Homo sapiens: one gene and its partners. The protein of the gene in region 4 purifies or fractionates together with the protein of the main gene of each other region. This does not show direct contact. Each region holds a gene or a part of one and is shown on either strand. Other genes may lie near its edges. The genes, in order: NAA15, GCN1, IARS1 and CREM.

Evidence for each region.
Region 1: the proteins of CREM (region 4) and NAA15 purify together in Homo sapiens (affinity purification with mass spectrometry, with the first as the bait; one study listed by BioGRID). This does not show direct contact.
Region 2: the proteins of CREM (region 4) and GCN1 purify together in Homo sapiens (affinity purification with mass spectrometry, with the first as the bait; one study listed by BioGRID). This does not show direct contact.
Region 3: the proteins of CREM (region 4) and IARS1 purify together in Homo sapiens (affinity purification with mass spectrometry, with the first as the bait; one study listed by BioGRID). This does not show direct contact.

What each region holds. Positions count from the first base shown.
Region 1 is NC_000004.12:139,306,288-139,314,110, reverse strand, and holds part of NAA15 (N-alpha-acetyltransferase 15, NatA auxiliary subunit), read right to left. Parts: intron 1-7,823. UniProt on the Homo sapiens protein: Auxillary subunit of N-terminal acetyltransferase complexes which display alpha (N-terminal) acetyltransferase (NAT) activity. The NAT activity may be important for vascular, hematopoietic and neuronal growth and development.
Region 2 is NC_000012.12:120,132,876-120,140,698, forward strand, and holds part of GCN1 (stalled ribosome sensor GCN1), read right to left. Parts: intron 5,982-7,823; coding exon 5,820-5,981; intron 5,541-5,819; coding exon 5,448-5,540; intron 5,170-5,447; coding exon 5,026-5,169; intron 4,940-5,025; coding exon 4,670-4,939; intron 4,445-4,669; coding exon 4,331-4,444; intron 3,858-4,330; coding exon 3,627-3,857; intron 1,852-3,626; coding exon 1,658-1,851; intron 1,531-1,657; coding exon 1,416-1,530; intron 1-1,415. UniProt on the Homo sapiens protein: Ribosome collision sensor that plays a key role in the RNF14-RNF25 translation quality control pathway, a pathway that takes place when a ribosome has stalled during translation, and which promotes ubiquitination and degradation of translation factors on stalled ribosomes.
Region 3 is NC_000009.12:92,282,255-92,290,077, forward strand, and holds part of IARS1 (isoleucine--tRNA ligase, cytoplasmic), read right to left. Parts: intron 7,173-7,823; 5' UTR 7,166-7,172; coding exon 7,047-7,165; intron 6,029-7,046; coding exon 5,872-6,028; intron 5,720-5,871; coding exon of another isoform or gene 5,657-5,719; coding exon 5,537-5,656; intron 4,365-5,536; coding exon 4,282-4,364; intron 3,586-4,281; coding exon 3,468-3,585; intron 1-3,467. UniProt on the Homo sapiens protein: Catalyzes the specific attachment of an amino acid to its cognate tRNA in a 2 step reaction: the amino acid (AA) is first activated by ATP to form AA-AMP and then transferred to the acceptor end of the tRNA.
Region 4 is NC_000010.11:35,176,680-35,184,502, reverse strand, and holds part of CREM (cAMP-responsive element modulator), read right to left. Parts: intron 5,632-7,823; exon of another isoform or gene 5,615-5,631; coding exon 5,517-5,614; intron 5,370-5,516; coding exon 5,227-5,369; coding exon of another isoform or gene 5,174-5,226; exon of another isoform or gene 4,656-5,173; intron 1-4,655.

The DNA of each region.
Region 1 (7,823 bases), on a different chromosome or scaffold from region 4:
CTTTTTCAAGGTAAAGTGCAATATTTACATCATAGTATTATGTATTTGTTAACCATTTAACATATGTAAAACAGTACTACCATTTTAAGTTCTTATCTTTGTTTTTAATCTGTCACTAATAATGTTTTTTAATGTTGTGGTCAAACTCATTTTCCCCATAAGCCCTGTGGTTTTTATTGCGTGATTTTGCAAAGCGCAGCGACTTTTAGGAATCTCCATGTCCCGATACAGTGGAATTACCTGTATATAAAGCATTTAGAAATATACTGTAACAGGCCGGGCGCGGTGGCTCACACCTGTAATGCCAGCACTTTGGTAGGCCGAGGCGGGCAGATCACCTGAGGTCAGGAGTTAGAGGCCAGCCAATGGAGAAACCCTGTCTCTACTAAAATTACAAAATTAGCCGGGCATGGAGGCACATGCCTGTAACCCCAGCTACTCGGGAGGCTGAGGCAGGAGAATCACTTGAACCAGGGAGGCGGAGGTTGCAGTGAGCCAAGATCACGCGGCCACTACACTCCAGCTTCGGCAACAAAAGCGAAACTCCGTCTCAAAAAAAAAAAAAAGAAAGAAATATACTGTAACAATGTAGTCATTAAGTATTGGCTATACTTACAATTTCCTTAAGGGAGTGTCACAAAGTTTATATCAGCTAACATGTAAAAAGTCTAGCATAAAATCTGGCTCAAAATAGATACTAAATAAATACTGCTTTGCTTAATGTTCCCCTTCTTAAAAATTCTAACTTGGTCCTCAAACATTGATAATTAAAGGTAATCTTGTACTACCCAACAAGTTCTCTTTGAAAAATAGAGTAACATTTTAAGTGTAAGCCATTTTAGCCATTTTATTGTGAGAGGAAAAAAAAGTTTTTGAATTTGAACAGCAACCATGTGTAAAAGGAGACAACCAACCAAGGCCAGGCTTTTTTTCCCTAGGTCTACTGTTTTTAAAAGCAAACTTTCACTTCTCCTTTTATGTAATCAGATAAAACAACTCTTACAGATGCCACTCAGGAATGTTTACATAATCTCCTCTGTAATAAAATCAAATGGAATCTTTAAAATTAAAAATAATACTGGCTTCAAATAATATTATTTCCCCAAGGTGTTTCAGTAGAAATTTCACATTATTTCAACTGAAGATTTGTTCATATTATACTAACCAAAGAAAGTGCAGTAGAGCCCATCAGATAACAAAAACATCAACCTGTCCATCATTTAATTCTTACACTGCAATTTTTATTTTACTTTTTTTTTCCCCCCCAGACAAGGTCTCATTCTGTCACCCAGGCTGGAGTGCAGTGGCATGATGATAGCTCACTGCAGTCTTGAACTCCTAGGCTCAAGCGGTCCTCCACCTCAGCCTCCCAAGTAGCTAGGACTACAGGTTTGCACCACCACCACATCCAAGTAACTTTTTCATTTTTTACAGAGACAGAGCCTTGCTATGTTGCCCAGGCTGGTCTCAAACTCCCGACTTCAAGAGATTTTCCACATTGGCCTCCCAAAGCGATGGGATTACAAGCTATTTTACTTCTAAATAACAAGGAAAGAAAAGATTGCTTTAGTTAAAAGTGTAAGGGATTATTTTAATGCCATATTAAGTAGTGAACAATATAATTTCCTATCTTACCTAGGAGGAAAAAAACCACAGGCAACAAGTTAGACTAGTGTTCTTAAAGTTACAACTTTAATACAAGTTTGTACAGCATGTATCATAAAACAACTTAGATGTTTAAGCCTACAGCTGGCATTTCAGGGAAATTTCCAAAAGTCAAGAATACAACCACAGCATAAAATTCCTTCCACACCCTAACATTTACACTGAGAACTATTACTGAATTTAAGCCTCTTCACTCACCCTTCTTACTATCAGAATTGGCAACTGACATTCTTTTCAGAACTATTTCTCACTAAGAATCTTAAGTTTGTCTCCTCAACAGGATATTGCCTGTAAATAGAGAGCAAAATTGTATTTAGATATGAATGCTGATTGCTGGCTAAGCTCACTGTTATGTGACTTGTTCTCTCTTCCACATCAGCTTCCCAGCATACCAAGAATTAAACTTGATTTTTAAATTTTCTGAAAAACACAAAGCAACTCTAACACTACGATTACTTTCCCTCAAATTTTTTTTTTAAAGAGATAGAGTCTCGCTATGGTGCCCAGGCTGGAGTGCAGTAGCAATTCACAGGCGCAATAATCACAAACTATAGCCTTCAACTCCTGAGCTCAACCAATCTTGCTGCCTCAGACTCCTGAGTAACTGGCATGCACCCCTGCGCCCAGCTCTTCTAACATTTTATATTTTAAATTTTATAACAGGTCTATTTCTTAATATCATATATAGTGGTCATCAACCCTGACTTCGTGTCAGAATCGGTTGTAAAGCTTTATGAAATGACGTATGGCTGAGCCCTACTATCTGAAGATTCTAATACAGCAGCAGGCTCCTCACAACAAACTCATTTAATCCTGATACCATTTCTCCTCCAATGCCAAAACCAAAGAAACAATAACAAAATTTTCCTCTTATTATGCTTTTGTGATGAAAGGCTATATAAACAAATACTATAATTCATTTATAAATTAAACTTCAAAGTCTTACCATAATATAGGCTCTGCCCAATATCCTACAATTATTTCATACACTAATGTACTCTGTAATGCCAAAGCCCAGCTTAACTCCCTTCTCCAAAAATTTATGCAAGCACACAATCCAAAGATCTTTTTCTCTCTTGCCCTGTAATCACTATTTTCACACTCACTTCACATAACAAATATTTATTAAACATCTACTATGGTACATCATTTTAACCAATGTGAATAGAGCCATTAACAGACGTCCTTATCTTCATAAACCCTACATTTTAATTGTGGAAAACGTGATAAACATAAAAGTAAATGTATGTCAGAAGCTGATAAATGAGAATAAAGTAAGAAATAAGAAAATAAGGTGAGAAGGACTGACTGCTAGCCAAGGAAGGTCTCTAAATAACATTTAAAGGACACCTGTTTAGCCAGGCATGGTGGCATGTGCCTGTAGTCCCAGCTACCCAGAAGACTAAGGTGGGAGAATCGCTTGAACCCAGGAGACAGAGGTTGCAGTGAGCCGAGATCACACTACTGCACTCCAGCCCTCCAGCCTGGGCAACAGAGTAAGACTCTGTCTCAAAATTTTTTAAATTAGGCCAGGCATAATGGCTCACACCTGTAATTCCAGCATTTTGGGAGGCCGAGGCAGGTGGATCACCTGAGGCCTGGAGTTCAAGACCAGCCTGGCCAACATGGTGAAACCCCGCCTGTACTAAAAATACAAAAATTAGCCAGGTGTGGTAGGAGGCACCTGGAATCCCAGCTACTCAGGAAGCTGAGGCAGGAGAATCACTTGAACCCAGGAGGCAGAGGCTGAAGTAAACTAAAATTGTGCCACTGCATGCTAGGCTGAGTGACAGAGCAAAACCCTGTCTCAAAAAATAATAATAAAAATAAATTTAAAATTAAAAATAAAGGACATCTGAGCAGAAGTCCTAAAACAAATAAGAAAAATGAGTCACACAGGTATCTGGGGGAGAAAATTCTGAACAGTCCTTTGCATATGATCCTTTATACGACATAGCTTTTTATGTCCAAAAATGTTTTTTTTTTTTTTTTGAGACGGAGTCTCGCTCTGTCGCCCAGGCTGGAGTGCAGTGGCGGGATCTCGGCTCACTGCAAGCTCCGCCTCCTGGGTTCACGCCATTCTCCTGCCTCAGCCTCCCAAGTAGCTGGGACTACAGGCGCCCGCCACTACGCCCGGCTAATTTTTTGTATTTTTAGTAGAGACAGGGTTTCACCGTTTTAGCCAGGATGGTCTCGATCTCCTGACCTCGTGATCCGCCCGCCTCGGCCTCCCAAAGTGCTGGGATTACAGGCGTGAGCCACCGCGCCCGGCCCAAAAATGTTTTTATGAAGAAAGAAGATATATTTGAATCAATGCTCTGTCAGAACTTCATTGTCAGAAGCAGAAATATTAAAAGATATAAGACTGCACACTAAGGAGAGGGATCCCTTCAGTTGAGGCCAGCTGGACAGTATCTCTCCAGTCCCCCAATCACACCGAGCACCATGCCCGCCCCTCTGGAAACTGTTCATTAACCAGCGCTCCAATAGTTTGGATGGCAATTCTATTATCATCAAATAACTAGTTTGAGCCCCAATAATGACCCAGGACTGCAAGACTTTGACACATCTAAAAAATGGAACATTAAATTCAGTTCCCTTTTAAGCTTTAGTCTGCTTTTCTGAAAATATAGTGTTGTCCATCTACTACTATTGAAAACTGAACTGTGGTCACTCTGCACAAACAAGTATTTTTAACCCACTCTATTGACGCAAAAGAATTTTTAAAAAATATTTTTTAAAACATTTCAGGTTTCTAACACAATACAGAATTTTAAAAATATATGCTGTCAGTTTAAAACAAAAACATATATTTGTTCATTCATACTGCATCTCACTCCAGAAAGACAAAAATTAAAAAGTAAGCAAACAGGCCAGGCGCAGTAGCATGTACCATAATCTCAGCTACTTGGCAGGCTGAAGCAGGAGGATCACCTGAGCTCAGGACTAGCCTGGGCAACACAGTGAAATCCTGGACACACACACACACACACACACACACACACACACACACACACACTTAAAAAGCAAGCAAAGAATAAATTTACCACATTATTAAAAGATTTTCACTTCTCACTAGATTTTTTTTTTTTTTTTTGAGACGAAGTTTCACTCTTGTCCCCCAGGCTGGAGAGCAATGGCGCGATCTCGGCTCACTGCAACCTCCACCTCCTGGGTTCAAATAATTCTCCCGCCTCAGCCTCCCAAGTAGCTGGGATTACAGGTGCCTGCAACCACGCCCAGCTAAGTTTCGTATTTTTAGTAAAGACGGGGTTTCACCATGTTGGCCAGGCTGGTCTCTAACTCCTGACCTCAGGTGATCCACCCGCCTCAGCCTCCCAAAGTGCTGGGATTACAGGCGTGAGCCACTGTGCCCGGCCCTCACTCGATTTTTACAGAAAAATCATTTTGTAATTTTTATAATAATTATATACACATTATATACACATATATAAAATAGCAAAACTGCATTTTGTTTTCTGGTATACTTTTAAGGGATAATTTATCCGAGTTTAAATTTACGATTACCGGCAGGGTGCGGTGGCTCACGCCTGTAATCCCAGCACTTGGGAGAGGCTGAGGTGGGTGGATCACCCGAGGTAAGCAGTCTGAGACCAGCCTCGCCAACATGGCGAAACCCTGTCTGTACTAAAAATATAAAACTTAGCTGGGTGTGGTGGTGGACACCTGTAATCCCAGCTACTGGGGAGGCTGAGGCAGGAGAATCACTTGAACCTGGGAGGTGGAGGTTGCAGTGAGTCGGAGAGTGCAGTGAGCTGAGATCACGCCACTGTACTCCAGCCTGGACGACAAAAGTGAGACTCCATCTCAAAAAAATAAATAAACTTATGATTAACTACTAAGAGCTGAATGGGATTTCAGAACAGACCAAACTTTGTTTCCATTTTTTGATTTTTTGTTATATTCTAAATATATGAAGTACAAGCAAAAGTATATTAAAACCAATTTCAAAGTTACTGTCCACTCTTAGTTGCAAAACTGGAATTCTGTCACAAAGAAATTAATCAGTTAAACTTTCATGTGCATATGGACACCTACTTGCTAACAATTCCTAATCTAAATTTCATCAGCAACTGAAGCTAAACTAAGTATCATTAACTAGCAGAAACATTAACTTTCCCAAAGAAAATAAATCACATAAAATAATTTACCTATTATACAATGGGCCGGGCGCGGTGGTTCATGCCTGTAATCCTAGCACTTAGGGAGGCCAAGGCGGGCAGATCAGGAGGTCAGGAGATCGAGACCATCCTGGCTAACACGGTGAAACCCCGTCTCTACTAAAAATACAAAAAATTAGCTGGGTGTGGTGGCAGGTGCCTGTAGTCTCAGCTACTCAGGAGGCTGAGGCAGGAGAATGGCGTGAACCCGGGAGGCAGAGCATGCAATGAGCCGAGATTGCACCACTACACTCCAGCCTGGGCAACAGTGAGACTCCGTCTCAAAAAAATAATAATAATAATAATAATTTACTTATTATACAATGTATACAGCCACCTAATAAGTATTACTACTCCTTTGCCTAACAATTCCCTCACCCTCCTCCTACACCCCTCCCCTAAATAGTTAAACACTAGGCAGGTGTGATGTTAAGTGCCCTGAAAAGAAAAAAAGTTTTATTCCAGACTGTAACTAACACTAGCTGTTGACCTTAATCTCAGTCTGTTTGCTTAATAAAAATGTCCCCACCTTGAAAAGTTTTGAGAATTAAGAAAGGACTCTAAATAAAGCATGCTGTGTCCAAAACGGTAACCATTCACCACATGTGACTATTTGAATTTAAATTAAGATTAATTAAAAATTCATTTCCTCAGTTGCACTAGCCATATTTCAAGTGTGCAATAATTACATGTGGCCAGGCCAGGCACAGTAGCTCACATCTGTAATCCCAGCACTTTGGGAAGCCAAGGCAGGAGGACTGCTTGATCCCAGGAGTTCAAGACTAGCCTGGCCAACATGGCGAAACCCCGTCTCTACCAAAAATACAAAAATTAGCCAGGCGTGGTGGCACGCCTGTAGTCGCAGCTACTCGGGAGACTGAGCTAGGAGGATAGCTTGAGCCCGGGAGGTGGAGGCTGCAGTGAGCCGTGATCAAACCACTGCACTCCAGACTGTGTGATAGAGTTAGACCCTGTCTTAACAAAAACAACAAAAAACAAACCTACACATGGCCAATGGCTATCATATTAGAGCAGATAACAAATATTTCCATCATCACAGAAAATTCTACTGTGCAGTGCTATTCTAAAGCACCTAGAGCAGAGCCTGGCAAATGGTAGATTTCTCATTTTACCTGGCAAATAGTGACAAATCACAAACATAATCATCATGCTATTTTAACTTCTCTCACCACTTTTCTAGGAAAGAAAAATTCTGTCCTTTAACACTTACAACTAACAATTTAAATCATTCAGGCTAAAGTCCAAAACTACATTTATTGATGTACAATATTTTAACTATTCCCAACTTAGATTTTTCTTATAACTGACATTAACATTTGAAGAGCAAAAAAGAGAGAAGGAAGCAGCAGCAACAGCAACCAACCTACCAATACTTGATTGAAAGGCATTAGGATATGTCCATCTTTTCCAAGCAGGTTAAAATCTAAGGTGTGGATTTTGTTCTACTCTGGCAACCTCATTTTTCCTACCCTTAACCTAGATCCTAACAAAGTGGTATAAATATCTGGTAACCTCCTCAAACTTTTAGATAAACAAATAGCATCAACAGTAGGCAAAGGCCACAATTTTCTAATGACTTAATTTTCCAAATAAGTTAAAAGTTTGTAATTACAAACAAAACAAAACAAAACAAAACAAAAAAAAAACCAGACCAAAAAAAAAAAAACCAGCTTCTGGCAAACACAAGTCTTCCTTAAACTCTTACATAGGACCAGGTGCAGTGGCTCATGCCTGTAATCCCAGCACTTTGGGAGGCCGAGGCAGGCAGAACACTTGAGGTCACTAGTTCAAGACCAGCCTGGCCAACATGGTGAAACACCATCTCTACTAAAAATACAAAAAAAAAAATTAGCCGAGTGTGGTGGCAGGCGCCTGTAATCCCAGCTACTTGGGAGGCTGAGGCATGAACCCAGGAGGTGGAGGTTGCAGTGAGCCAAGATCACACCACTGCACTCC
Region 2 (7,823 bases), on a different chromosome or scaffold from region 4:
GTTTGGGCCTCTGAGCTCGAAGCAGAAGCCCAGGTGCCAAGCTAAAGCTGGCTCTGACACCGACTCTCTCCAACTTCATCTATTTTAAGCTGCACTGTGGTAAAATGCAAATATGTTTCAATACTAACTTTTGCTTGCACTGTACACATGACTCTGTAGAAGCCCTGAAAGACTGTGACCAAGACAGCAGACTTTCCTGTCTGTCCCCACAGAGAAGGCTGGGGCTGGAGTCCGACAGCTGGCGCCTGGGGACCAGAACTAGGCCTTTGGAGCCATGGGAAGTGCAGCAGCAAGTGTGTGTGTTGCAGGTGTGGGCAGGAGGAGTGTGTGTGGGTGTGTGTGTGTGTCAATGACGTGTAAAACCATGTGAGCCCAAAGGCCCTCTCCTCCTAGATTGGCCCTACAAAGTAAATTAGACCACAACAGAGGGCTGTCTGAAAAGGGAACAGAAAACTCTTCTCCATAGACTCAACTCCCTACTGGCCCCACAGTGCTCGCAGCCAAATATTTGACAGATGCTTCCAGACTAGGTGAGGCTGATGGAACTGGGACAGAACCAGGAGTCCAGGGCTTCTGGTTTGGACTCTACTACTTGCTGGGTATGGCCCAGACAAGTCTCACCCTCGAAAATAGACCTCTAAGACTTGCCACCGGGACACACCCTGGAGACCATTTATCCCACTACACACTAAGTTTCTTGAGGTCTGTGACCACGAGGTCTATGCACCTCTGGGATAGGCCCTTTAGCTCGGCAAATGTTTCACAAAACAATAAATAAACCTCTTCATTTTACAAAAGTGGAAATGAGAGGCAGACAGAGAAAGTGACTTCTTTAAGATCAGAGAGCAAATAGGTGAGAGGTCTGGGTCTCTACAAAGCTTACTTGCCTCATCTATAAAATAGAAATAACCGGCCGGGCGCGGTGGCTCATGCCTGTTAATCCCAGCACTTTCGGAGCCCGAGGCGGGTGGATCACCTGAGGTCAGGAGTTTGAGACCAGACTGACCAACATGGTGAAACCCTATCTCTACTAAAAGTACAAGTATTAGCTGGGTATGGTGGCGGACACCTGTAATCCCAGCTACTCGGGAGACCGAGGCAGGAGAATCGCTTGATAGGAGGCGGAGGCTGCAGTGAGCCGAGATTGTGCCACTTCACTCCGGCCTGGGTGACACAGCAAGACTCAGCCAAAAAACAAACAAACAAACGGAAATAACCAATATATCCACAATACCTGCCCCGTTTCCCTTGAAACCCGAGGAAATGTTGGTGAAGCATACAGGGTGATAGAAATGTCAGGAATGCTTATTACTACTGAGCTGTACTGGTTCTAACACAAAGTGAAGAACTCAACCTAAGGAGGAGGAGGGAAACCAGTGGTCCAGTGCTGCCACTAGTCCTGCCTGCAGCCGTACCTCATCGTGTCCCAGCATGCTCAGCAGGAGTGAGACGATGTTTTTCCGGATGACGGCATCCACTTTGGCCCCTGCTCCCTGAATCACAAACCTCAGGGCCTGCAGCATGGTGTCCCTGCAGAAGCAATGCACCGCCTTAAGCCCTGGGTGCCTCCACCACCACCCCTCCTGCCAGCGCAGGCTCGGCCCACAGCAACCCCTGGCCTCCTGGAGGCCACAGTGCTCCCTTGCCAGCGCCGTACCTGACACCTGGGTCCTCCATGGCGCGGATGCCATTGAGCAGCTCTGTGAAGAGGGGGTCCACCTTAATGTGGATGGAAATGAGCTTCCCCAGAGCATCTGCGGCCTTCAGGCGCACCCCCCGGTTGGAGTCCTGCAGGGCTTTGGTGAAAGTGGTCTGCAGCTGGGGCAGGAAGGGCTTCAGGGCAATCCCAACCTGTGGGAGGAACCCACATCCATGAAAGACAGTTGTGGTAGACCCAAAGCCACAGTGTACCACAGGCATGAGAACAAATGACAATCCCAAACCACCACAGCGAGTCCAGCTCTCATACAGGGCTGGGGACAGATAGCCCGTCAGAGAGGCCAAACACAGACAGGTTTCGCTTGGCCTCCTGGTCATATCCAGCATGCTTTGATACACTGGAGGAGCAGGAGGCCGAGGAGGCGGCGGCCGCTATCTGAGGGAGCTGTCTCGCAGCCTTGGCTGCGTTGGGGTTTGGCTTAGTGGAGACCTGTCCATATCGATAAGTGACTCAAATCCTCCTCTGAATACATTAACAAGCAGGGCAGACTATCGGCAGTACTGAAGCACAGTTCTAATGCCAAGACAGGGAAAGGGACTCAGTGTATAATTGCAGAGCCCATCTACTGAGCAACTGACAGCAGGATACGCACTCCACATTCAGCCCTCAGAACAAGCCTGTGAAACAAATGACCTTGGAGAATCCTCCCTGCACAAATGTGTACCCACCTAACTAAAAATCCAGTTCAACCCCTGACTATACAGAAACACAGGCACACTTTTGATACAATACAGGTGGGTCCAAGAGTAAAGATTTACTTACTGTTTTTTGTTTTGTTTTTTTTTTGAGACGGAGTTTCGCTCTTGTTGCCCAGGCTGGAGTGCAAGGCGCGATCTCAGCTCACTGCAACCTCCGCCTCCCGGGTTTAAGCAATTCTCCTGCCTCAGCCTCCTGAGTAGCTGGGATTACAGGCACCCGCCACAATGCCCGGCTAATTTTGTATTTTCAGTAGAGACAGGGTTTCTCCATGTTGGTCAGGCTGGTCTCGAACTCCCGACCTCAGGTAATCTGCCCACCTCGGCCTCCCAAAGTGCTGGGATTACAGGCTTGAGCCACCACGCCCGGCTTACTTATTGTTAATTAGGAAAACCAGAGTGACTGTTTGGAGGTTCAGTGCCAATGAAGGTCTGGAAATACTGGAGTTGGGTGGGTGTGCAGGCTGTGGCAGGCACACAAAGGGGATAGGGGGAGCTGGTAAATCTGAGCTGTGCGAGGTCAGGAGTTCGAGACCAGCCTGGTGAAACCCTGTCTCTACTAAAAATACAAAAAAATTAGCCAGGTGTAGTGGCAGACACCTGTAATCCCAGCTACTTGGGAGGCTGAGGCAGAAGAATTGCTTGAACCCAGGAGGCGGAGGTTGCAGTGAGCCGAGATCGCGCCACTGCACTCCAGCTCTGGGTGACAGAGTTAGACTCTGTCTCAAAAACAAAACAAAACAAAACAAAAAACAAAAAAAAACAAAAACTGCAATATCTTTAAACAATGTTTTCCTTGTATTTACGTGGTCCTGAATTTTTTCCTTTGAAAAAGTAGTTTTTCAAAATAATAGCATTTCACATGTACTGAGTGCTTAGTATGTAGCAGGCATCATGCTGGACATAACCTCATCTAATCCCCATATCTAGCAGCCCTTCATGAGGCAGCTGGTATTATTAGTCTCACATTGTAGGTGAGGAAACAGGCTTAGGTTATATGGCTTTCCCAAGGTCATCCTGGTCACAGAGCTAGTAAGGACGACTTGGAATTGACCCATGGTGTAGCATGTCTGAAGTCCAAGGTCTTACCTCCCTCTGCTATGCGGCTCTCCACAATAAATCTGTTGCCCTGCTGCTACATGACACCTTGTATCAGGCTCCTGCAGACAGACCTGTTCTCTAAGATCTGAACAAACTCATCAGCCACTCACCTTAGCCAACAAGAGGCTGAGTGTCTCGAGCAGAGCCGCCTTCACATTCCAGCTGAACCTGTCCCCCAGGATGCGGATCAGAGGGCCAGTGATGCTGACCACGGAGGGCCTCAGGGCGTCAGCCGAGGTCAGGCGGATTACCAAGCCTAAGGCTTTGGCTGCCTCCTCCTTCTGCTCAGGGCTGCCAGTCAGGACTCCTTCCCGCAACACTGGAAGGATGGAGGTCACTCCCTGACAAGAGAACCACAACTGAGAGTCAAATCTCAAACACCCTGGGCCCTGGTGTCTCCCATGCAAGCAAAGTGGTCCTGACAGCTGTCCTCCCCTCAACTCCATGGGAGATATTGATTTGGGCTGAATCTCAGGATCACAGCCTGAGAGGGCTGGCTATGGAACGGTCTTGGCAGAGAAAAGACGACAAGGGCCCCAACAGGCCTATCACACAGAGAGAACATGCACTGCTGTTACCCTGTGGCCCACTCACTCTGGCCAAGGTGACCTGCAGAGCTTAAACCAAAGGCAGCATGAACCCTGTCCCCATCTGACTGCCATGGAAGAAAACATGCTGTCTGCGAAGGTGCTGAACACCAACCACCACGGCTACTGCTCCAGCAGCCCCTACCGCAGACCTGGGACAGGGGTAAGGGCCAGAAGGGCACAACAGACTGCACGCCCACAGCCCCCTGCACGAGGCCCTGGCTTACCTTCTTCGGGAGGCAGAATCCTGGCACATGCTCGCCTTTGCTCTCGTTCCCTATGAGCCGGATTTCCTTGTGCAGCTCTTCAATGAGTGCCAACTGGTTGCCAGCATCCAGCTTCTGCAGGAATCCAGGAAAAAGCGAGAGGATGTACAGCCCTCTCAAGACTGCTTCCAAAGAATATATGGGGAAAGCGTGGGCGGGAGTATAAACAAGACTTGCCACGAGTGGGTAAACGCCGAAGCTGAGTGACAGGTACGTGGGGGATTCTTATAAGTCTATTCCTGTAAATGTCTGGAATTTTCTAAAAGCAAAAGTTGGCTGTGGGGTCAGCAGTCCCCTCACCTTAGTGATGGCATTTAGGGCATCCCAGCTCTCCTCCAGAACCACAGGGCTGGAGTCATTGAAGAGGCGGATCAGGCCCGAGACCAGGCTCCGCAGGTGGCTGGTGTAGTCAGCCTTTGAGCGGGAACAGTAGATGTTGAGGATGATGGCAGCAGCTTGCCTCATGCCCACCTCAGGGCTGCGGGTGGCCTCCAGCAGATCCTCGATGATGATCCGGTGCCCTGTGTCATCCTCTACGGAGAGGATCACAGCCTGACAATTGGCCATCTCCTGCAAACCACAAGGGACATGTGTGCTGAGCAGGGATCCTCCGGGCAGACGGGACATGAGAAAGCAGGAGCAGGCTCGCCCCTTACCAGCTGCTCATCTGGGGTCCCAAGCTTTTCCTTCAGGGCCAGCATGACCGCTGGGAGGATCACGCCAAGATGACGGGTGAGGGCATCACCAGCCACTGACGAAAGGAAAGCCAGCACCCGGGTGTTGACAGGTGGCGTTGTCAGCTGGTGGAATGACAAACATTAACTCAGTGAATACTGTGCCAGGTGCTGCGCTAGGCTCTGGGAACAGACGGGTGGGCAAGAGAGCCCAAGCCCACTGCTCAGAGCCAAGCATCTACTCCAGCATATCTTGGAAGACAACAGGGGAAGGATGTAATGCTTGCACTGCACCCTCCTCCCCCAGCCCTCCAACATCTACGTTCAGAACTGGTCTTCACTGCAGGCCCTGGAAATGTCAATGCCCTGGAGCCAGAGGGTGTTGACCACATGTTGGGATTTACCTTGGGCACAAGGTAGGGCAGCACCACACGACTCTTAATAGCCATGACTTGCTTCAGACCATCCAAGGCAAACTCTGACACCTCCTCGTCATCCTGCAGAGGGTGTTGGGGACAACCCTGAGGAATCTGCATCTCTGCTGTCTCAACCAGCCACCGCCAACTTCCTTCTCCACTTGTTTCCCTCCCTCCTGTTGCACCCACATTTCCTCACTGCCGAAGGCGAAGCACAAAGCCAAGTCTGATCTTGCTATACCCACTCCCTCTGGAGGGCCCACATTGCGACTGCCTTGGCAGAATAATCGCCCTGTATTTTCCATCTACAAAGACGGCAAAAGCCAAACTGGTAGGTAGGTGTGTGGTAGATCCACTCACCAGCTGCTTTAGTAAAAATGGGAGAATGTCCTCCAGAGCCTGGTGGCCGATGGTGGAATGCAGCTGCTCGAAAGTCTTGGCTGCCGCCTCTCTGACCTCCTCCAGTGGGTCACACAAAGCCTTCCTTGCCGTGGGCACGAGGGATTCAGAGAAATACAGCACCTGCAATGGCAAGCTACAACTGTACCAGATGCAGGAAAGGCAAAGAAGGAGCAGAAGCAGACAAGAAGCACAGGCAGGGGACTCTGACCCAGCTAGGCCACCCTAACTCTCTTTGCCTGACTTGTCTTTTAACTTAACTCTTTACTGTGAAATAAAAAAAAGGAGAGAAGGGGCCGGGCACGGTGGCTCACACCTGTAATCCCAGCACTTTGGGAGGCCAAGGTGGGCGGATGACTTGAGGCCAGGAGTTCGAGACCAGCCTGGTCAACATGGCAAAACCCTATCTCTACTAAAAATACAAAAATTAGCTGGGTGTGGTGGTGCACACCTGTAATCCCAGCTACACAGGAGGCTGAGGCACAAGAATCGCTTGAACCCAGGAAGCAGAGGCTGTAGCCAAAAGAGATGGTGCCCCTGTACTCCTGCCTGGGCAGCAGAGTGAGATTGTCTTAAACTAAAAATTTTAAAAAAATTAAAAAGTAGAGAGGGGCCGCGCACAGTGGCTCACGCCTGTAATCCCAACACTTTGGGAGGTGGAGGCAAGAGAATCACTTGAGGCCAGGAGTTTGAGACCAGCCTGGGCAACATAGTGAGACCTCACCTCTACTAAAAATGCAAAAATTAGCTACGTGTGGTGGTGCACACCTATAGTCCCCAGCTACTCAGGAGGCCATAGCGAGAGGATCACTTGAGCCCAGAAGGTCAAGGTTACAATGAGCTATGATCGCACCACTGCACTCCAGCCTGGGTGACAGAGTAAGACCCCGTCTCAATAAAAAAAAAAAGCAGAGAGGATGTGATGCACCCCCATGTATCCTTCACTGAGACTTAATAATCAACAGCTTGAATCTTTTAGGTGAATTCTCAATATACCTCCCATCTTCTCTAAGAACTGCAAACTCCTTCCCATGGCATCTGGCCCCCTCTCTCCCTGGACTCTTTCTTTTGCTTATTCTCTTGGAAAACTCCAAGTCCTTCTTCAAGTCTCAATCCAGACTTTGTGCTCTATGAAGTCTTTGGGTCTACAATGGAGCCAATAATGGCTCTGCTCCCTCAGTAACGATCCCAGCACAGCAAAGCCCACTCTGCATTCTAATGACTGGTTGGCATGTGGGCCTTGCCATTGGACTGTGGGGACTTTGCAGACAAGAACTCAGCCTCTGTGGAACTCTACCTCTCCAATGAATCACAACTCTTTCTGATGACAGAATTTCTTTTGATTCCTTGCCAAATGTAAATTTTAAAAACCAAACGTAAGACAAACATCAATATAGGAGAAGAGGGATCTGGTATCCTAGGAATTCAGACAAGGATGCCCAAGCCAAGCAACTGGCCACTTGCTTACATTTCTAGCGGGCCATCCACTTAATTGCTTTGGCGTTTTCATCCAAACACGAAGGCAGTGCCTAAAAGCACTCCTAACCTACTCCCCAGGGTGGTCTCCAGGATCATTTAACTCAGGAACCAAGTAAGAGTAATGGACTTCACACCCCTTGAACGTTGCTGCTATGGAAACAGTATTGTTGCCAGACGCAATATGCTTCCTCCCACCTGGCACCACAACTCTTACCTGCTCCCCTCCTGCTAAGGGTGAGTGCACACCCCCTCCCGCACCCTCCTGCCCTACCCACTCACACAGCTGTCCATCCCCTTTCCCAGAAGGAGGTGCACACATTTTAACTGGACTTATATAGCATCACAAAAGAGACTGATCCTGAGCAACCTCCACAGTTGTAAGAGAGCGATCATCTCCAGTTTCCAAAGGCCACTCAAGGAGGCATCCAAATCACTTAGCTCTTAGCCTGCAAAACTGACAGGAAAGCTGAGAAGACGGAGCCTCAA
Region 3 (7,823 bases), on a different chromosome or scaffold from region 4:
AACTCTCCGCTTTTCTGTGAGTTTGAAACTACATCAAAATTAATTTTTTTCTTTTCTTTTTTTTTTGAGATGGAATCTCACTCTGTCACCCAAGCTGGAGTGCAGTGACGTGATCTCAGCTCACTGCAACCCCCACCTCCCAGGTTCAAGCATTCTCCTGCCTCGGTTTCCTGAATAGCTGGGACTACAGGTGTGCACCACCATGCCCAGCTAATTTTTGTAAAAAATTAAAATTTTTTAGCACGGTGGCTCATGCCTATAATCCTGGCACTTTGGGAGGCCAAGGCAGGAGGATCGCACAAGCTCTGGAGTTTGAGACCAGCTGGGGCAATATGGTGAGATCCCATCTCTACAAAGATAAAAAAATTTTCTGGGCATGGTGATGCACATCTGTGGTCTCAGCTGCTCAGGAGGGTGAGGCTGGAGGATCACTTGAACCCAGGAGGTCAAGGCTGCAGTGAGCTGTGTTTGCACCATTGCATTCCAGCCTAGGTGACAGACTGAAATCCCTTCTCTAAAAATAAATAAATAAAAGTTTTAAGCCAATACATATATATGTATACTTACATATATACATACACACACATATATATATATATATATATATTTTTTTTTTTTGAGACAGAGTCTAACTCTGTCACCCAGGCTGGAGTGCAGTAGCACACTTTCGGCTCACTGCAACCTCAACTTCCTGGGCTCATGTCATTCTCTTACTTCAGCCTGTGGAGTAGTTGGAACTAAAGGTTCACGCCACCACGCCCAGCTAATTTTTGTAATTTTAGTAGAGATGGGGTTTTGTCATGTTGCCCAGGTCGGCCTCCAAAAGTGCGAGGATTTCAGGTGTGAGCCACTGTGCTTGGTCAAGTCAAAAAAATTTTAAAAACCCTTGGTTAACAATCAATATACAGACCGCGTAGAATAGAGGTCAGCAAACCATGGCCCCTGGGCCAAATCTGGCTCATCACTTGTTTCATACAGTGGGTGAGTTAAGAATGGTGACAAAATTGAGAACACTTTGCCTGAAAAGCCTAAAATATTTAATTTGCAGAGGAAAGTTTCCCAACCTCAGTATTAGAACTAAAAATTAAGTATACTCTGTGACTCACCTGGGCGTGGTGGCTCACGCCTGTAAAAATACCCGCACTTTGGGAGGCTGAGGCAGGTGGATCAACTGAGGTAAGGAGTTCAAGACCAGCCTGGCCAACATGGCGAAACCCTGTCTCTACTAAAAATACAAAACTTAGCTGGGCATGCTGGCGGGCACCCGTAATCCCAGCTACTCGGGAGGCTGAGGCAGGAGAATTGCTTGAACCTGGGAGGAGGGTGCAATGAGCCAAGATCACACCACTGTACTTCAGCCTGGGCATCAGAGTGAGACTCCGTCTCAAAAAAATAAAAATTAAAACAAAGTATACTCTGACTCGATAATTCCACTACTTGTTATATAACCAACTGAAACGTGTACAAGACCTAAAAGACAACAGTCACCATGTGTTTAAGTCTTGGTAGATCCTGATTTAAAAAAATAAATAAATAAAAATAAAATATAACCCCTTGGGAAATGATTAAACCATTAGAAATATGAACTGATGATGTTCAGGAATTACATAATTTGAGAATATTAAAATAAAAACTATTAAAGGTGGCTAGGTGCAGTGGCTGACACCTGTAATCCCAGCACTTTGGGAGGCCAAGGCGGGTGGACTGCTTGAGCCCAAGAGTTCAAGACCAGCCCAGGCAACATGGTGAAACCACTCCTATAGAAACACATAAATTAGCCAGGTATGGTGGTATGTTCCTGTAGTCCCAGCTACTCAGGGGGCTGAAAGGGGAGATCACTTGAGCCCGGGAGGTCAAGGCTGTGGTTAGCCGAGATCGTGCCACTGCACTCTAGCCTGGGTGACATAGCGAGATCCTATCTCAAAAACAACAACAACAACAAAAAGGTAACTGCTGATGACTTTTTAAGGTGTGACAACGAATGCTAACATGGCAATGTTTAAAGAAGATAAAGATTATTTATGAAAGATCTATACTGGATTATTTCTTGATGAAATAATATGATATCTGGAATTTGTTTCAGAATTGGAAGGAAAGTGGGAAAGAATATGTGTATGAATGAGGCAAGATTAGCCAGTCATTGGTGCTGGGGGCCTTAATGGGCCTACAGAAATTAATTATACCATTCTGTTTACTTTTGCATGTCCCTGAAACTGTCCACATTCAAGTGTTTTAAAAAACAACCAAACAGGCCGGGCGCAATGGCTCACAACTGTAATTCCAACACTTTGGGAGGCCAAGGTGGGTGGATCGCAAGGTCAGGAGTTCAAGACCAGCCTGGCCAAAATGGTGAAACCCTGTCTCTACTAAAAATGCGTGGTGGTGGGCACCTGTAAACCCAGCTACTCCAGAGGCTGAGGCAAAGAACTGCTTGAATCGGGTAGGTGGAGGTTGCAGGGAGCCAAGATCGCGCCACTGCACTCTAGCCTGGGCGACAGAGCAAGACTCTGACTCAAACAAACAAACAAACAAAAACCAAATATAGCAATATATTAAGATTTGACAAAGGTAAGCCTTGGAAACCTTGTGTTTACCATATCATTCTCTACATTGTTAAGTGCTTAAAATATTTTACTAAAAAAATACAAACATGAGCACAGAGAGGTGGTAAGGAGATAATAGAAATCATCATACCTGCCTTACAAGGATTTACAAAGATCAATCAAACAGGATATGTGAAAGCATTCTATAAATAAAACGTGCTTTGAAAGGCAAATTTTACTAATGTAATTTTCAAACCTAGGCCATGAAACAAGAATTCCAAACAAGTCAACATCCTTTAAAAACAGAGGGTCAGATAAACTCTCAAAACTGAAAACAACTCAGTATACACACGAGAAGAGATGGTTCACATTTCAGAAGACTTACTAGTATATAATATCTGTCTAGATATGGTATAACAATACACTCTGTAAACATCAAACATGTCTAAACACCTCAATCATAGCAACAACAACAACTGATTCTATCTCATCAGAGGAAAAATAATACCATTTGGCATCTCAAATTAATTTTTTTCCAAATACCGTTAACAAATAAATGATATCATGAGGTCCCAGATAAGGCATAAAATTACTCAACCCTTAAGAAACGATGACTACAGGAAGTATGTCAAAGCTGGACTTGTTAACCCAACAGAGAGGCACAAAAATATGGTCAAAACAAGCAAAACCTATCACATTAAGACACATCATAAATCCAATGTGGAAAAAAAATCCCTCATCTTAACAGAGCCTTAGTATACTAACTGGCAATATTTCCAGCACTCAGTAAGAAGTGGTCAAAGTGGTGGATGTCGTGGGCAACATTCCACACTGGGTCTACTTGGGAATACCTACTGTGATCATAACTACTCAGCTTCCACCTACAAAACTCAATGCTGAATAATGTCTCTACATTTCACGTACCTTATAATTCTGGTGTGACTCGAAGTTGGAAAGTGGAGTGTTACATGCCGTAGAGAAGGGCATGACTTTCACACCTCTATAAACAAGGCCTTTATCATAGAGTTGTTTGAAGACCCACCTGGTAAGAGATGGAGTTTCACAATTACAGAACAAAATTCTATTTCTGAAAATGCAAACATTTATGCCATTTTCTTTTTAGAGTTTCTGTCTGCCAAATAAGTGAAAAAACAATGTCTTTCATTGGGAGACTGGCTGGTAAATTATAACAGATCAATATAGTAAGACATCAGGCAGACATTAAAATGCTAATATCTACTGATATCGAATGATATTTAACACATAATGTTAAGAAAAGCAACTGGCAGGCTGGGCGCAGTGGCTCACGTCTGTAATCGTAGCACTTTGAGAGATCAAGGTGGATGGATCACCTAGGTCAGAAGTTCGAGACCACCCTGGCCAACAAGGTGAAACCCCATCTCTACTAAAAAGACAAAAATTAGCCAAGCATGGTGGCGGGCGCCTGTAATCCCAGCTACTTGGGAGGCTGAAGCAAGAGAATCGCTTGAACCTGAGAGGCGGAGGTTGCAGTGGGCCAAGACTGTGCCACTGCCCTCCAGCCTGGGCAACTGAGCGAGACTCAGTCTCAAAAAAATAAAAATAAAAGTTCTACATTCAAAAACAAACCTGTTCCCAAAGATTTTCAGAGAAATAACGATGGACTCAAAAATAAACTGATTCATGCTAGTGCATTTTTCCAATTATCAATACAACAGAATAGAATATTTACCATATTTACAATTTTAAATAAACCTACCAGACTGATTCCATGAATTGTGGATACAGAGTTTTATAGTCATTGTCAAAGTCAATCCATCGGCCAAGTCTGCTAACAGTAGACTTTAAAATATTAATATTAGAACAGTATTAGACAATGATATTTATAATTGTACATCAATGTGTGTTTATTTCTGTTGTCATCACAAATGAAAATTTTGGGAAAACAGAATAATCAATGGTACAAGTAAATCTATACTGCCAACAACATATTATGTAAGGTTAAGAACCAGTTTTCTCGGCATTCATCCTACATGCACAAAATGTTATTTACAAGTATAAATATTCACTTATAAAAGTCTACCAAAACCACCACTTGGCAAATATCACAGGCATAATTATTACTGGCAAAAACCATCCATGGATGTTAAAATTAATAAGTGAATGTATGACAAAAAAAAGAATATTTGGAAAGAATCTCCCCACAAGATACTTATTAATTACAAAGGAAAAACTACAACTTTACAAAGCAGAAAGCTGACAGCACTTTAACCAAGTGAACAAAGTTATCACCATCAATGTGACATAGCCGCAACACATGCCACCTGATATAATGCATTGAGAAGGGCATAGCATCACTTCTGTGGCATTGTCACCAAAAATGCATAACCTAAATTAAATCAGGAAACCTCACACATTGAGAGACATTATAGAAAATAGCTGTTCTGCAATCTTCAAAAGTGAGAAGGCCATGAAATACAAAGGACTAAATAAATGTTCCATACTTAAGAAGACTAAAAAGACATGACAACCAAATGCAATATGTGATTGGTCAGAAATAAAAATTAATGGGGCAACTGCTTTTGAAAATTCTATTAATATTATGGTTACCGAAGATGTTAGCAGCTGGGAAAGATGGATGAAGGATATAGGGGAACCCATCATACTACTTTTTCAATTGTTTAATAAGTCAAATTATTTCAAAATGAAAAGTTAAAAAAATTGAAAAAAGTATTTGAGAAAAAAAGAAAAGGCCTATATATCATGTTATACTTATTAGAATTTTTCCCTATTGGTGATCATGCAAGAAAGTTAGACCAATTAAGCACACAGAAGTCAGAAGAGAGATGGTTCAGTTTAAGCTAACCGTTTAAGTAATAGGGTTGAAGGTGGAAGCTAACACTTTTTCTACAAAAAATAAATTAATAAAAAAAGCACAAGGGACCATAAACCATTTCAATGCCCATTTAGTAACTACATTTGCTGTTCATTCTACTGAAAAAAACCCAACATACCTTCCACTCAGCAGAATATCTCATCACAATTGCTCGGCACTGATTGTTATACTCTGTAATCCCCATTTTGGCCACATCCTCTGGTCCTCTGATTCCCAGTGTCTTATCAATTTCATATTCCTGAAAATTTGTGATAAGACTGTTACCACGCTGCCCTATGAAAACAACTGCAACTATGCAACTCTAGAAAACAAAACAAATCAAACTACAAATATTATAGAAATGAACTAGAAGGTCTGACAGTCAACGTTCATCATACTTGAACATATTATATGACAAAATCTAATGCTTATAAAAAAAATCAGAAAATTATAAAGCTGGATACTCAAACATACCACAGGTAAGCCATGGCAATCCCATCCAAATCTTCTGTCAACATGAAACCCACTCTGGTGAGCATATCTTGTAACTATATCTTTAATTGTACCCGCAAGTATATGTCCATAGTGAGGCAGTCCAGTTGCAAAAGGAGGACCATCATAGAAGGTAAATCTAACAGGTAATAAAAATATATCAAGCCATTTAAAAACAGCCAAAATTTAAGGCATTTTTCTATAGATAGCTCTTGTCATAGTGGAGTCTTCAAGGAGAAAAGCAGCAAGATCAGGAAACCGACAGACATAATTGATTTGATATTTACTGGTGGTCCTGCCTTCAGAAAGGCTACAATTGTGGTAGAGCTACAGAGACCTCCATTTGATTATCCATTTTTCATTTATTAGTTCCATGACATAAGGCAAATTATTTATCCTGATCTTGAGTTATCTCATCAGTAAAATAGGGCAATAAACCCCTATCTCATAGTTTTTGACCAGAGGAGACATATAATGAAAACACTGATTAAAGGACTAGTCTTTTAGGTGAATGAGGACTAAAGGCAGGTAGTACTATAGTAGCCTTCTATGGGGTACTTAGGTATAAGTGCCTAAACGAGGGTGGTGATGAAAATAAAGGTGGAAAGAGGGTGACACGGAGGATGACACATAAATTTTACTCAGATGACCTTTTAAAGAAACAAAATTTACCCCAATAATTGAGAACTCATTCATTCAATGTATATCTACTACTGAGTACCCACTACATAGGGAGCTGGGGGATTCTGGGAATAGAAAGATTAATAAAGAGTATCTGCTTTAGGCCGCGCGTGATGGCTCACACTTGTAATCCCAGCACTTTGAGAGGCCGAGGTGGGTGGATCACTTGAGGTCAGGAGTCCGAGACCAGCCTGGGCAACATGGTGAAACCCCGTCTCTACTAAAACACAAGAATTAGCTGGTGTGATGGCGGGCACCTGTAATCCCAGCTACTCGGGAGGCTGAGGCAGGAGAATCACTTGCATCCGGGAGGCAGAGGTAGCAGTGAGCAGAGATTGCACCACTGCCCTCCAGCCTGGATGACAGTGCGAGACTCCATCTCAAAAAAAAAAAAAAAAAAAAAGTATCTGCTTTAATGGAATTCAGTCTAAGAAATGACTATTCTTAAGGGAACTTAACCTAAAAAATTCACATACTTTGGTTTATGTTTTGATTGCTTTAAGCATTCCTGAAAACAATTAAATTCAGTCCAAAACTCCAAGATTTTCTCTTCTTCAGCAGGAAAATTTATGTTTTCTGGAACTTGTTGAAGCATTTTGTTGCTGCAAAAGAAATCAAATTTATTACTGTCAAAAGAGAAATCTAGGAATAACAGAGTACCATATTATTAACATGGGTGTACATGACACTATCCATACTTTTAAAAAATTACAGCTTTATTGATGTACAATTTACATAGTGTAATGTAAAAAGTGTACAATTCAGTGGCTTTTTAGTATATTTACAAGGTAGTATAACTAGTAATACCTAATTTCAAAACGTTTTCAACCTCCCCTCCCCACCAAAACACCCCAAAACCATTAGCAGTCACTCCCCATTCTTTCTTCTCCATAGCCAGTGGCAACGATTTATCTTCTTTCTGTCCCTGCAGATTTACCTATTCTGGACATTTCATATAAATGGGAAAATTTATAGGAATCATCTATATGTGGCCTATTGCATCTGGTTTCCTTTCTCTAGCATGTTTTCAAGGCTCATCCATGATGTAATATGTATTCATACTTCATTACTTTTGATAGCTGAATAGTATTCCATTTCATGAATATGCCACATTTTGTTTATCCATTCATCATTTCTTGGATACCTGTATTGTTTCCACTTTTTGGTTATTACGAATAACGCTGCTATGAACATTCACATACAAAATTTTGTGTGGATCTATGTTTTCATTTCTCTTGGGTTTGTAGCTAGAA
Region 4 (7,823 bases):
GAGGACCTTCCCATTGAAAATGTTCTCTCTCATCTGACAATAAACAAAATTTCCCAGTGCCTCAGGATCCTGGAAATAGGTTTTACGTGGGCCTGTCTGTATTCAGAGATTTGAGGAGAAAACTGTTTAGGTTTCAAAATAGTCAAGGATAGCATAACATGTGCTTTCAATAAACATAAATCAAGATAGAAAAAATAAGATGAAATTAACTGAATGAATTTAGACATATCTTCTATTTTAGCTATTTATTTAAGAGATGGGGTCTTGCTGTGTTGCCCCACATCCTGATATTGGTCTAGCTGGTCTTAAACTGCTAGGCTCAAGCAATCCTTCTGCCTCAGCCTTCTGAGTAGCTGGGACTACAGGCACAAACCACCAAGCCTGGCGATGTTATACACTTCTTATTTATTTATTTGTTCATTTATTTTGAGATGGACTTTCACTCTTCTCGCCCAGGCTGAAGTGCAATCGTGTGATCTCAGCTCACTGCAACCTCCACCTGCTGGGTTCAAGCGATTCTCCTGCCTCAGCCTCCAAAGTAGCTGGGATTACAAGTGTGCACCACCACACCCGGCTAATTTTGTATTTTCAGTAGAGATGGGGTTTCACCATGTTGGCCAGGCTGGTCTCGAATGCCTGACCTCAGGTGATCCGCCCACCTCAGCCTCCCAAAGTGCTGGGATTACAGGCGTGAACCATCACGCCCGGCCCATGTTATATACTTCTAATCCTAAATTTATACACATGAGCTAATTAAAATACATACACATGTAAATGTTTATATTTAAAACCACTCTTGTTCCAAATTGCAATCCAAAGATTCATAAATGAAATCTCACTGCATTAACTTTAAAAACAGCAGCAAACAGACCTTTGTTCCAATGAATTCTCAGGTTTAAATTCAGAGTGACCATAAGAGAGCACCTATGAGTACTTGTACCTTAAAAGCCAAGAGGTGCATTATAGCAGAAGGAAGACTAAATCATGCTATAACAACAATAGCAACATCAAAGTTTAAAAGCCAGAGTTACATTAAGTAGTGCCTTAAAAAATTTTGAAACAGTTGCCTTAGAGAAATGTAAACAACGTCACTATTAAGAACTGCAACTGGATTAACTTTCGAATGTGTAAGCCTATTATGTTCTAATTCCCTTTATGAAGAAGTTGAATTGGTGCTTATTCGTGAGCCTCCTGAGAATTCTGAATTCTTATAAGGAGTCCACAAAGTTCATATTTTTCTTTTCATAATGGTGCAGTTTAGATTGACCCACTTACCTTTCATGTATAAGAATTCCAGAAAGATGAGTTAATACTCTAATAAGATTCCTCGTAAAATACAATAGGCACAAGCAGAGACAAGGGCCATTTGTGGGAAAAAAACTGAAGTCTTGGGTGATAGTCTTTAATTGGTACAGGAAGAGGTTGGGTATAGTAGGATGGAGGATTTAAGTAACCTTTGTTTCAAGAGGAAATTTAATGAATTAGGAAGCTTCAAACATTTTAATTTCCTCGGTTGCTTTTACAAATTCACTCATTTACTGCCTATCTTAACTGTCTCATGCAGCAAGTAACATTCTTTGTTAATTCTAAGGCTGTCTCTCTCCCGCCATCTCTCGGGTATATGCTTCTGAAATAAAAGACTTTCTTCGACCAGCTCAACTGTTATGCAACACACCTATCACTAAGATCTGTACTTCCAGTGAGGATTCTGCAGGTACAGCTCACTTACTTGGTGTTGTAATAATGGATCCCTGTCTATTTTATGCTTTTTCCTACTCCCCAGGGAGCAGCCTATTCCAACTTTCACTTTTTAGTTTTTGTGATAATAGTAAGTCAATATAATAAGGCCAACTTCTGCCAAATATCTTTCAACTATTAAAAATGTAACTGCTTGTATATGGGAAAACTTGAATATACTTTATTTCTTCAACTTTGATACACATTTAGTTCTTTTAAACACCAGCTAACTCATTATTCCAAATTAAAAATAACTAATAAAATATTGGAAAAAAAGAAATAAAAGCAAAGTTTGGGAGAAAGCCATCCATGGATAAAAGCTGAACAATTAAACCTAAAATTTTTTTTTATAATAAAAGGTTATGAAAGAGCATTAAAAAAAATTTACAGCTCAAAGGGAAGGAAAAAAATAGGAAAATCTCCAGAAATTCTAATAAAATACGTTCCTCTATTCAAAAACCAAAGGAAACTGGCAATTGTTTCCATTTCTAGACATTCTGCTACAACATTAAAGCATTAATATCTGCTAAGTTAGTTCTATAAAAAATAAGATCAATAAAAATGGATGTTGTGTGTGTAAGTATGTTTACCCTCCAATTAAAGTAAACGTCTTCTAAAAAGTTTGAATGTTGTTAGTATTCACTTCTCAAAGAATTATCTACATATATTTCACTAAATGTCCCCAAAATGCATTTTTAACAAAAGAAATTCACATTGTGTGAACAAATGGCAATTTTTACCTGCAGACTGTACATACAGAACTATAACTTCTCATCAGAATAATTTCTAGGATCATACTGTATAGACTCAAATTAAGAAACCAAAGTAAGAAATAGTCCATGACCTCTTATGTGGCAAATAGACAGATGTGTTTTTTTTGTTTGTTGTTTTGAGACAGAGTCTCACTCTGCTGCCCAGGTTGGACAGTGCAGTGGTGCAATCATAACTCACTGCAGCCTCAAACTCCTGGGCTCAGAGAATCCTCCCACCTCAGCCTCCTGAGTAGCTGGGATGAGCGCATACCACCACACCCTGCTAATTTTTAAAATTCTTTTGTAGAGACAGGGTCTCACTCTATTGCCCAGACTGGTCTCAAAGTCCTGGCCTCAAGCAACCCTCATTGCCTAGACCTCCCAAAGTGCTGGGATTACAGGTGGGAGCCATCACACCTGGCCTAAGATCTAATTTCTACAGATGCAGTTTTCTAGTTCTCAACCAAAATTCCTGACTCTGCTCCTCTCATCCCCCCCACAGACACACAGAGTGAGGTTTAAGGCCAGCCCCCTGCTGTGAGCAGGTACCAAGGACACAGGGAATGAAGCCATTGGGGCTGGCTGGAGGGAAAGTTCAATGAACATGAATGAGACAATGGTACACCTAACTTAATTTCTCTGTTTCATGCCAATAGTAGCATGTCTTTTTCCCCCTACTTTTACCCATTATCTCCTTTGTCTTCACAGGAACCCCAGAGTTTGGCAATTTAGTATTATTCCCACTTCAAAGACTAAAACCTGAGATGTGAATTTAATAAAGCTTCTTGCTCTGATCATTGAGTTTGCAAATGGCACAAAGATGGTTCCTTCCACATCCTCTCCAGCTTCAACCCCATACATTTTCACAATTTCAAATTTTCAGCTAATAATCTAGACAAGTTAACCCTACAGCATCTGCTTCCCTATCAACTTGTAAAGGAATCACTGCTTCTATCAGAAGTCCTAAGTAGCATTAGCATATGCCAGAGAAATGTTACGATGACAGCATCTTAGTGGTTCCCAACACTTTGAGAAGTCTTAGTGTCATTTCAGCAGTCACTTCCAACCTTTTCCCTGTCATTACACAAACAGAACATGATGACATGTGTACAGCCCACTGGGGTGAGTGGATGGAGCTGCTCAAGGCCAGGGCTGACCAGCCAGGAGGCGCCAGCAGCTTCTGCCCAGCCCCTCTGGGGACGGGGGGACGAGGCACTCAGCACTCTCATAACCTGCGTGCTGTGCTGTAGAGGCTCATCAGCTGGCATATTCAGTTTTACAGTTCTAAAACCCACCAGAGATTCCCAGTGTGCCAGACAAAAGAGCATGTAAACGAGAGAAGTAATAAAAAAATGACAATGTAAACCTCAAGGTCTATTTCTTACAGATGGTGGGGATTTTCTTTTCCTAACACTGACTTTGGACAAGTCTACTGGGTGCCCTGTCAAACGTGTGAATACACTACACCCCGGATCTGCTAGGTATCATGGTAGGAGTTCCCCTCAATTACCAACAGAGAATGTATTTAATAGTTTACTACTGCAAATCTACCACTGCTACAAGAAAAACTCTAAAAAGCTCCACAAAAATAATGACTATATAAAGTCTTCTCATACATTAAAGATTATAGCTTGTTTTAGTAGTCAGGACTTAAATTAAGACTTGAGTTTTTTTTTCTTGGTATTGCTACTTTTTAAAGGAAAAACAAAGAATATATCTAAAATCTTAATACCTTATTTGGATAAACACATTATTTAATATCACATATATTCCAGTACCTAAGTAGCTCTTTTTAAAGTCAGAAAACTAAAATTATGAATCTCTTCAACAACATGACTGCTGTCAATATATTTGTTCAATTACTTTGAGGACCTAGGGTAGCAGAGTTTACAAAACTCACTTTACTTCATATTATAATTACATGGGAAATTGATTTAGACAACTTCCATGGACAATTTATACTTCAGAAAGGACAGGAATATCACATTATTCCAGTACCTAAGGGGCTAGCTTAGGATATGTGATATCCCTAACCTTTCTCCTCCTTTTTCTTTTCTTTCTAGCTCTTGCTTTTTACGTATCAAACACTCTTCTTTTGGGAAAAAAACTAGTGCTTTAATCAGAGCAAAAAGCACAGAATTAACGGTCCATTAAAATGCACAAGACTGAATGTGAATGTATCTGTTTATTTAGAGCTTTCAGTGTGTAAAATTTCAAATAAAATTATCTATCCAATTGCTACAGTTTAAAAAATTAAATCATTTTTCCATTCTCTTTTAGGAAAAACTGTAGCACAAATTAACAGAGTAGAGAGTAGTGAAACATTGAAAACATACTTTAGAAAACTCTCAGATTAGTAAGAATAGTATGTAATTGTGGGTAACAAAAGCCAACAAGAATGAAATACAGACATTTATGTTCGCATGCATCATAAAGACAACAAAAACAATGTTTTACTAGAGATTAATATAAACATGTAAATAGGAAAAATTCTCCTTTTTACCCCAAAATTTTCTTCTATATTCGGCAGTCAAAATTTTTACTTTTCAAAATTATATGACAGCTGTCAATACAAAGATCTCACTTTTTAACATATACTTTCATTCTATGATACAGTTTAGGTATTAATGATGCATTTTAAAATGGAACAATTTAATGCCAAAACCTGAGTTGCTTCAATATAACTAGAGAAGACTTAAAGCTAGCACTGTATCATATCGAATTGCAGCATACATACTGTATTGCCCCGTGCTAGTCTGATATATGCTAGTTGGTACTGCCATGGTAGCAATACTAGGTGGTGTTCCTTCTTCCTCTGATCTCTCTTCTTCAATCTTGGGAACACCAGGCACATCAGAGGACAGTTCATTCAGTATTTTCCTAAAATACAATTTAACAAGGTAAGTCACTAAGATACATGAATAAGTCTTAAAACAGAAAAGCTATAAAGGAAGAATTGATTTGATGTATAATTATTCTACCATTTTGGAAAAAGTATCTTTACATTAGGAAACTTGGTTAACTTACCTATAAGAGGGTCTTCGTGAAAGGATTTCTCTACGTTTATGAGAATCAATTACACCTTCTGATTCTGCAGATTCATCTGTCTCTGCAATTGCTGCTACCTATAATACAAGATTTTCTGAAATGTATCATAAAATATATGCTCTTTTCCCTCATTCAAAAAATTGAGGCTAAGAGTCTGTGTGTGCAGCACTGAGCCAGGAGCTGTGGAAGCAACTGAGCAATAGAACACAGTGAATCTGCACTGAAGGAGTCTGGCTCAAGAAAGGAAGCGCAGACGCAAACATTTCAGTTATAAAACAAATGTGTGTGGAAAGGAATGTTACGGGTACTCTATACTACAGAAATACTAGGGAAAGAGTGGTTGGGATGTCAAATGAGGCATTGCAGGAAAGAACAAAATGTAAAATACCCAAGACCTAAGCTCCTCAACCTGAAAGTGCTCCTACGAATCCAGGAGGGAGCCAGCGAGGGGCCAACGCAGAAGAGAGCTCCCGGATCACACTGCTGTTCCCACACTCTCACAGCTGGCGCTGGCGTGAGCTGGGTCTTCACATTAGCCATCAGATAGGCCCAAGACAGAATATTTAAGTAGATAAGCAAGTCAGTAAGCAAGCCTGGGTAAAATCAGGATTTCTATTACAAGGAGTAAGTTAGGGCTTGGTGGCGGTGGGTCTTGAAGATCCAAATAAAGCATTTCTCCTTAAGAGAAAGATCAGAGTTTTAAGCATGATTTCATTTTTCAAGTCAAGTAATAATACAGTGATATGATTATTAAAGAAGTCAGAAAACTAAAATAATGAATCTCTTCAACAACATGACTGATTTTGATATATTCAGTCAATTATTAATACTTTGAGGGCCTAGGGTAGCAGAGTTTACAAAACTCACTTCATATTATAATTACATGGGAAATTGATTTGGACAAAATCAAAAGAGCTTATTAAAATATCAACAATGCAAGCAAGAATATATACTTCCCGAAGTACACGGAGGTGTATATTCACCTCCACATATGACTCGTGTTTTTGCTCATGAACGCCCCACACATAAGCACACACACCCAATCAACAGGACTGAGAAAAATGTTGTTGCCTCAGATAATCATATATCACCACCAAATATTAAATATTTATCATTTTACACCGGGCTGTCACACATCTGTCATAGAATCATAACAACTCCCTTAGGTGAGGTAGGCTATTAATTTACCTATTTTAGAAAGGTGAAAATTAAAGTTCATGCACAGAGATTAAGTGGCTTGACCATGATCCAACACGTAAGTATTCTAGGACAAGATCCACTGGCACCTCTTTCTACAAGGACAATTAAATCGTTCACTTAACAAAATCCAAACAAAGTCTACTGAATATAACAGAATACTTTCTTTCAGCCGGGTGCTGTGGCTCACATCTGTAATCCCAGCACTTTGAAAGACTGAGGCAAGAGGATCACTTGAGGCCAGGGCCTCAACACAAACCTGGGTAACATACTGAGAATTCTGTCTCTATTAAATAATAAATAATAATAATAGACAATACTTTCTTCCAATACCAGCCAGGTTAAAACTAAGTAGAAATATGTGGACCTCAATAAAAGTCATAAAACAAAGAAGAGGTTGGAAAGACTTTCTTGTTTTATAATTAGTGTCAGAAAGAATTAGAAACTCTTGGAATCAGGGGCCATCACAGGAAAAAAAGATAATGATGAGAATTATTCTTACACTTCTGGGAAACACAGGAGAAAATACCCATGCCACAAAGATAATCAAGCTTTTAATGTATGTGAATTTGTCACATCAGGTATCTTGTCGCCACTCTTATCATTCTACTGTGATAAACTACTTGAACACGCAAGAAAAGGACTATACTATGTATACGTGTCTCCATTTTCCTCACAGATTTTTTTTTTTGTCATCAATTAGGTTCAAATAATTTCAGCATTTAAAGGATAATAACTGACCTTAAAAATGAACAAAAATAAATTCAGTAATTAAGATGCATACTTTAAAAAATGCATATTTAATAATTTACATCTATTGATGGAAAAAATGTTTTAACTTCAAGAAATGTTAAGGGTAAAATACATCTCTGGATCACAACCACAATAATAATCATATCTACAAAAGCCAAGGTTTAATCGAGAGGGATACATTAATAATATCATCTTACCAAGAATTATGTATACCGAATTTAAAATAAATTTATATCTACCTACTAAGGTGATTATAAATTTATATCTACCTACTAAGGTGATTATTCATGAAAACAGCATCAGCACTGGCTGGGCGCAGTGGCTCACGCCTGTAAT